Linked DNA regions of Homo sapiens: region 2 is linked to region 1. Evidence: fine-mapped expression QTL. A gene starts in region 1. The other region holds a variant in brackets. All regions are shown on one strand. Distances are between the middles of the regions. Region 1 holds the start of ARLN (allregulin). Region 2 has its middle 19 kb from the start of LINC01061.

The links. PIP is the estimated chance that this variant, and not a neighbour inherited with it, causes the effect.
Region 2: its variant is the best candidate, but not a certain one, in a credible set for the expression of ARLN in rectum (CEDAR, PIP 0.61).

Annotation. Positions count from the first base shown.
Region 1 is chr4:119,298,561-119,302,560 of GRCh38, reverse strand. ARLN (allregulin) reads left to right here and starts at 1,916. Exons shown (of 2, transcript NM_001001701.4): 1 at 1,916-2,225; 2 at 3,782-4,000. The coding sequence starts at 2,026. The coding sequence ends at 3,782. RefSeq lists enhancers at 1,943-2,172, 2,273-2,322.
Region 2 is chr4:119,427,302-119,431,825 of GRCh38, reverse strand. No RefSeq gene overlaps it. Among named protein-coding and RNA genes, the nearest start is that of LINC01061, 19 kb to the right of the region's middle. The variant A/G (reference allele first, on the strand shown) is at 2,484.

The sequences.
Region 1 (4,000 bases):
CTTTGATAATGGCAAATGCCAACTGAGCAAGGTGGCTCATGCCTGTAATCCCAGTACTTTGGGAAGTCGAGGCAGAAGGATCACTTGAGGCCAGTAGTTCAAAATCAGCCATAACACACTCTAAACTCATTTCTGTAATGTGGAATAATCAACAATCAGTGGGACTTTTACAAGGGTAAAGTCGGAAATAGAATCTTTCAACTGAATTTAGTTTAAATAACCCCTCCTTATTTGCACTAGTTGCTCTTCCAAGTCTGGCAGACGTTCCTGACTCTAGAACAGATCATACTGTCAACATCCCCTCATGATGAGCATGTGACTCTGGGCCAAAGACAAGTTTAAAACCATTTCAAGACCTGTTCAGTTTATGTCATGCTTCTTCAACACTAATAATCTCAATAATTTTTTATCAATCCTACTTCAATAACTAGGAGTAATTGATCCTACCTTGTCAGCGAGAAGAATGCTTCCATCTCTGGTAGAGGCAATTGTTTATTTGCCTTTCCTAATTTTTGTAAAGATTCAATGCCACTTAAGCCCAGGGTCTTTTTGTCTACTACCATCAGACAATCTGTATTACAGCACACAATCTAATTAATTCTCAGGTAATGGCCCTCTCATCCCAGAATCTACAAAGCATTTTTCTTGAAAGGTCGTATACTATCTTTGTCTCTAAAACCTGGCAATTGATTTGGAGGCAAATTGGAGCAAGGTTAGGAAGCTATGGAACAGCTTTAAGAGTGCTGGATTTGGAGTTAATTTTAGGCTTTATAATTTTTTTAGTAACCTTAGACAATTCACTCCTTTTGTGTCTCATTTCCTAATTCTATAAGATGGAGTACTGCCCCTTCAAAGAGGTTTTACGACGATTTAATGACTTTGTAAAAACACAACTACAGTCTTATCTCCATTTACTATGCACCAAGAGAACCACTTATATGTCTGGGTGCCCGTTATTTTCTGAACAATTCAGGAATCATAATGTGACAAGAAAGAGAATATTTGAAATTGGACCCACGAGGTAAAATCCAGGCAGTATAGGTCATTTTCTTCCTGCTAGCATTCTGTTCTTGCTGAGGCTCACACTCAAAGTCAAATAACCTTTGGGTTATTCTTCCCACCCCCATTTCCCCCCAGATGGAGTCTCGCTCTGTTGCCCAGGCTGGAGTGCAATAGTGGCACGATCTCAGCTCACTGCAACCTCCGCCTCCCGGGTTCAAGCGATTCTCCTGCCTCAGCCTCCCGAGTAACTGGGATTACAGGCGCCTGCCACCACGCCCGGCTAATTTTTGGATTTTTTTTTTTTTTTTTTTTTTTTTAGTAGAGACGGGATTTCAGCATGTTGGCCAGGCTGGTCTCGAACTCCTTACCTCAGGTGATCCGCCCGCCTCGGCCTCTCAAAGTGCTGGGATTACAGGGGGGCGCGGCCAGGTTATTCTTAAACCCACTCCCTTGAAGTACCTGCAAAATGCTCACGTGCTGCTCTCTGGCCCGTTTGGAAACTCAGTCCCGTGAGTAGGACGTCCACCTCATTGGTGGTGTTTAAATATTAAGTGTCAAATGCTAGAGACAGTACAAAACCCACCAGAGGGGGCCTTCCTAACACGTTGGCATAAGGATCCAAACGGAATACGGGGATAGGAGAGGTGACCTCGTGCAGTTTCAGGGAGGAGTCCATCACCTGACTGGACTGGGCCTTTCAGGGGGACGAGAACGTATTTCTTCCAACGAAACCTGAATAACCAGCTATCTGCCTGGGACGCCGCGAGGCAGAAGTAGGCGGGCCCATTGACTTAGTGTCAAGGCGGAGGCCGCGCTTCATGCCAGCGGTCACGGAGGCAGCGGAAAGCCGAGCCAGGCGCCTGCGCGCTGGGAAGAGTAGGTTCAGAGTGCATTCCGGAACCCGGGGCGCGGCGCACTGCGCAGGCGGCCGGACTCCGCTCAGTTTCCGGTGCGGCGAACACCAAAGTCCGGGAACTTAAGCATTTTCGGTTTCTAGGGTTGTTACGAAGCTGCAGGAGCGAGATGGAGGTGGACGCACCGGGTGTTGATGGTCGAGATGGTCTCCGGGAGCGGCGAGGCTTTAGCGAGGGAGGGAGGCAGAACTTCGATGTGAGGCCTCAGTCTGGGGCAAATGGGCTTCCCAAACACTCCTACTGGTTGGACCTCTGGCTTTTCATCCTTTTCGATGTGGTGGTGTTTCTCTTTGTGTATTTTTTGCCATGGTGAGTATCTCGAATGCAAAATTGGGGTGGTAAGGAGCTTAGAGATCATTTGCTCGCTTTTGGGCGGGGAGGGGACTGAATTCCAGAGAGTTTATATATGTCCAAGATCACACAGCTGGTGAGTGGCGCAGTCGGGTGGGTGGGGGAGAAGGACTAGGAGTAAAATGTCCTTCTTTAGCACGTCCGTGGGAGTCTCCAAAGAAGTGTGGAGAAAACTTGGCGTCATATTTTCTCATGATTTGGAATGAAACCAGCTAGGCTTGAGTTCCTGCAGCACCATGAAGCGACCGGAGAAGTTATTTCGCCTTTTGGAGCTTTATTTTTTCATCTGCCATTTGGGACCATTAGTAACCCAGGTCATAGGGGTGTAGTGAAGATTGAGATCGTAGTGATTTGCATGTTGCCTGGCAGTAGTAAGTGCTCAACGAAAGCTATTTTTACTATACAGCTGTTTAACCATGAGCAGACCACGCAGCTGTCTCAAACTAAACATGTCCAAAACTGAACTCTTAACAGCTTCTTACCCAAATTTACTTGCCTTGCAGCGTTACCATTTCAGTAAACGCCAACTTTATCCACCGTTACCTCCCAGAAACCTGAGACACTTTGCCCTTTTCTTACACACATCCACATATCCTAAAACACCAAGTTACAAAATTCTGTAGAGTTTACTTGTAAAACCCATGCTCTCCATTTTCATCGCCACTCGCTCTGAAAAGACAATTCTGGCAGAGGGTAAAGGAAGGGAACTTAAGAGAATAGGGCAGGAGGAAGCAGACACCAAATGGAGATGGTGTTAAGAGACAAGCTAAGGAGAAGCAGTGAGATGAAACAGGGCTCCTATGGGAGAAGAGCAGTGTAGCCCATCTAGACAGCTCTCCTGGACTTTGGAGTTGATTGTTCACTCACTGTTAACTCCTTAGTCACCATGCCTATGAGTTACTTCTGAAATTCTCACTTCTTGATAGGCAGTCACTTCTTCTACACCCCCAACCCCCATCCTATATTTTCACCAAGATTTGGGTGTCTTAAGCCTCACTGTCTCATTTCTTGGATGGTGTAGTAAGTTAGAGAAGACAGAGAGGGCCAGGCACAGTGGCTCACGCCTGTAGTCCCAGCTACTTGGGAAGCTGAAATAGGAGGATTGCTTGAGCTGGGGAGGTCGAGGCTTCAGTGAGCTGTGAACGTGCCACTATACTCCAGTCTGGGAGACAAAGCAAACCCTGTCTCAAAAAAAGGGGTGGCAGGGGAGCGAGAGGGATTAATGGGAGGATGGCAAAAGGGATAGGGATTTCTATAAAATTCTCTGTCAAGCCATTTGTAAAGGGAGAGTTTTACTCTCCCTCCCTGTTTTGGTAGAGACTGATAATCTCAAATACAGTGGGTTTTGTGTGTGTGTGTGTTTTTATGACCTGAACTTTCAGCTCTGGATAGAAAATAGAGGCCTTACAAGAAATGTTCTAGGCTTTTCTTTTTATCAATATGTAAATAGGCATAAAGTGTTAAAAACTGGGAAGATAAAGCACATATTGCTGACAAATACTTGCTTTTTACAGACTTGTTCGCTGATATCTAAATTAAGAAGTTGGTTCTTGAGTGAATTCTGAAAATGGCTACAAACTTCTTGAATAAAGAAGACAGGACTCTCAATAGAAGAATTTCACATCTCCAAGGGACCCTTCCTTTCATTTTACACTTTGTTACTAATTTGCAGAACTCTATTAATTGGGTAGGATTTCACCCATTCCTAGCTAAGTTCTTAAAATTAAACCCTT
Region 2 (4,524 bases), 130 kb before region 1:
CTTGGACTGTAACTCAAAAATGATCAAATAATAGTGCATGCATCAAGTGCAATGGGAAGCTCTTCTGGAGAGGGAGAGAAGCTTCCAGTTAAGGTGACATTGAAGCCAAGTCCTGTAAGATAAGGAAGAGTTGTATGAGAGTGGGGAGGGAAGGGGGAGGTGGAGGGATGGGGATTGGGCTGGGATGGGATGGAGTGAGCTGCCCAGGCAGGGAAACCAGCACTATACAGACCTGAACAATGAAGATGGCACATTTTGTTCAGGGAATGGTGAATTAAGTGTGGCAGAAATGCTTTGTAGAGACAGTAATTTGCTTGTATGGAATTTTGCCCAAGAGACCTCATTACAGTTTCTAATTTTTTGATGTTATCATGCATCACTGCCCTTGTCAGATAGTATCATGATCACAATAACATCAAGCATAATATTTCATTGATTCTCACAAAAACAGGTGGGTGCCACAGTTATCCCCATTATATGCACAAAATGATGAAGACTTGGGGTTAATGAGCGATTTGCCCAAGCTCACCTGAATATTAAGACTGAGTCAAATGTTAGTCTGGTCTGACTTCAATGCTTGCCTTGTTCATGAGCACCATGCATTGCCTCTCCTATGCAGTTAAGCAGGTAGACAGGTGAGAGAAGAGCCCGTGTGATATCGGGGGAAATTCACCCCGATATTTCATGTAGGTTCTTTTCTGTTTTCCCTGAGTGTTGGCCGGTCTGAGAAATAAAGGAAAAGAGTACAAAAGAGAGAAATTTTAAAGCTGGGTGTCCAGGGGAGACATCACATGTCGGCAGGTTCCGTGATGCCCCGCAAGCTGCAAAACCAACAAGTTTTTATTAGTGATTTTCAAAAGGGGAGGGAGTGTACGAATAGGGTGTGGGTCACAGAGATCACATGCTTCACAAGGTAATAAAATATCACAAGGCAAATGGAGGCAGGGCAAGATCACAGGACCACAGGACCGGGGCGAAATTAAAATTGCTAATGAAGTTTCGGGCACGCATTGTCATTGATAACATCTTATCAGGAGAAAGGGTTTGAGAGCAGACAACCCATCTGACCAAAATTTATTAGGCGGGAATTTCCTTGTCCTGATAAGCCTGGGAGCGCCACGCGAGCCCAGGGCTTATTTCATCCCTTATCAACGACTGTAAAAGACAGCCGTCCCCAAAGCGGCCATTTCAGAGGCCTCCCCTTAGGGATGCATTCTCTTTCTCAGGGATGTTCTTTGCTGAGAAAAAGAATTCAGCAATATTTCTCCTATTTGCTTTTGAAAGAAGAGAAATATGGCTCTGTTCCACCCGGCCCACAGGCAGCCAGAGTTTAAGGTTATCTCCCTTGTTCCCTGAAATTGCTGTTATCCTGTTTTTTTTTTCAAGGTGCCCAGGTTTCATACTGTTTAAACAACTTGTGCAGTTAACGCAATTATCACAGGGTCCTGCAGGGACATTCATCCTCAGCTTACGAAGATGACCGGATTAAGAGATTAAAGTAAAGACAGGCATAGGAAATCACAAGGGTATTGATTAGGGAAGTGATAAGTGTCCATGAAATCTTCACAATTTATGTTCAGAGATTGCAGTAAAGATAGGCCCAAGAAATTATAGAAGTATTAATTTGGGGAACTAATAAATGTCCATGAAATCTTCACAATTTATGTTCTTCTGCCGTGGCTTCAGCTGGTCCTTCCGTTTGGGGTCCCTGACTTCCCGCAACACGTTTCTCTCTACTCACAGACTTCTGACCAAATGTGTGTGCAGAGTTTCTACACCAGTTCTCCAACTCTCTGGATACCAACCGCGTATCCCACAATTCCATTCTGACACTACCTAGAGTTAGCGCAGAACCCACAGGTTAGGGGCTCAGTCCCACAAGACCACTCTCACTTCAGATGCCAGTTGCAAGTCCTAGGTTGTCACCTGTATTTTGACCAACCAGTTAGAAATCAGGGTTTCCCATGACCCTCTTCTTGAGTTTAATTATTTACTAGAACAACTCACAGAACTTAGAAAAACAGGTTTTTTTCTTTCCTTTTTAAGAGACAGGGCCTCGCTCTGTTGTCCAGGCTGGTGTGCAGTGGTGCAATCATTGCTCATTGAAGCCTCAACCTCCAGGGCTCAAGTGATTCTCCTGCTGCAGCCTCTCAAGTAGCTGGAATTACAGGGTTCCCACCACCACATTTGGCTAATTTCTTTTATTTTTTGTATAGACGGGGTCCTCTTATGTTGCCCAGGCTGGTCTCAAATTCCTAGGCTCAAGTGATTCCGCCCACCTCTGCCTCCCAAAGTGCTGGGATTACGGGCATGAGCCAGCGCATCTGGCCACCTTATTTTCTGTTACTGGCTCAGTGTAATGGCTCCATCTCAGGAACAGCCAATGAAAGAGATGCACAGGACAAGGTAAGTGGGGAGGGGCACAGAGCTTCCATGCCCTCTGTTGGGCACACTACCCTCCCAGGACCTCCTTGTGTTTAGCA[A/G]CACAGAAGCTCTCCAAACCCTGCTGTTTGGGTTTTTATGGAGGCATGATTGATAAAATCATTGGCCATTGGTAGTTAAGTCAATCTCCAGTTCCTTTTGCCTCCTGGAGTTCAGCAGGTGAGGCTGAAAGTTCCAAGCCTCAAAAAATGTGGTTGGGGCCAGGTGCGGTGGCTCACTCCTGTAATCCTAGCAGTTTGGAAGGCTGAGGCACATGGACCACTTGAGGTCAGGAGTTTGAGACCAGCCTGACCAACATGGTGAAACCCTGTTTCTACTAAAAATAACAACAATTAGTTAGGCGTTGTGAGACATCCCTATAATTCCAGCTACTCGGGAGGCCAAGGCAGGAGAATTGCTTGAACCCGGGAGGTGGAGGTTGTAGTGAGCTGAGATTGTGCCATTGCACTCCAGCCTGGGCTACAAGAGCCAAACTCCGTTTAAAAAAAAAATGTGGTTGCTTTCTCTGGCAGCTAGCCCTCCTCCTGAAGCAGTCTAGGAGCTTGCAGCCACCCTGTTAGCTCAACAGCATCCCACATGCATTCTTACCATGCTGCAGATCTGAAAGACCTTAGAGGCCCTTGTGTCAGGAACCTGGGACTAAGACTAAATATCAAAACAGAAAATGCTCCTATTACCTCTGTCACGAAGGGCTTTATAAGAGCTTTGGAAGCTCTATGCCAGGAACCAGGGGCAGAGACCAAATGTATATTTCTTTTCTTATATTGGAGACAGAGTCTCACTCTGCCACTGAGGCTGGAGTGCAGTGATGTGATCATAGCTCACTGCAGCCTTGACCTCCTAGGCTAAAGCAATCCTCCCACCTTAGCCTCTCCAGTAGCTGGAACTACAGGCGTGCATCACCATGTCCAGCTGATTTTAATTTTAATTTTGTAAAGGCAGGGTCTTCCTATTTTCCCCAGGCTGATCTCTAACTCTTGGCCTCAAGCAATCCTTCCTCTTTGGCCTCCCAACTTGTTGGGATTACAGATGGGAGCCCTCATACCCACCAATCACAAGGATCTTTATAAGAGAAGGAGGTAGGAGAGTCAGAATTAGAGAAAGTGATGTGGTAATGGAAGAAGAGGTCAGAGAGGGAGATTTGAAGATGCTGCACTTCTGGCCTTGAATATGGAGTCACGAGGTAAGTCAAGGAATGGGGGTGGCTTCTAGAAGCTGGGAAAGGCAAAGGAGCACATTCTGTCTAGAGCCTCCCCCAGAAGGAATGCAGCCCCTCTGACACCTTGACTTTAGCCTTAATAGACCTAGTTGGGCTTCTGGCCCCCAGAACTGTAAGATGGTAGATTTGTGGTGTTTGATGCCACTAAATGTAGGGTACTTTGTTGTAGCAACAACAAAAAATGAACATGAAGCTGGGACCTCATGTTACAGTTGCTCACGCCTGTAATCCCAGAACTTTAGGAGGCTGAGGTGGGAGGATCGCTTAAGCCCAGGAGCTTAAGACCAGCCTGGGCAACATAAGACCTCATGTCTAAAAAAAAATTTTTTAAAAGGCCAGACGCAGTGGCTCACGCCTGTAATCCCAGCACTTTGGGAGGCCGAGGAGGGTGGATCACGAGGTCAGAAGTTCAAGACCAGCCTAGCCAAGATGGTGAAACCCCATCTCTACTAAAAATACAAACATTAGCCAGGTGTGGTGGTGGGTGCCTGTAATCCCAGCTACTCGGGAGGCAGAGAATCACTTGAACCCAAAAGGCAGACATTGCAGTGAGCCAAGATCGCACCCTTACACTTCAGCCTGGGTGACCGAGACTCCGTCTCAAAAAAAAAAAAAAAAAAAAAACCATGTGTTGTGGCATGCAGCTGTAGTCTCAGTTCCTAGGGTGGCTGAGGCGGGAGGATTGTTTAAGCCTGGGAGGTTGAAGTTGCTGTGAGCTGTGATTGCACCAGTGTACTCCAGCCTGGGCAATAAAGCAAGACCTTGTTTCAAAAAGAAAGAAATGAGCATGGTGGGAATGGGGACAGAGGGCAGTGTTAAGTAGAGTGGTCAGGGTTGGCCTCGTAAGTGAATATTGAGCAAAA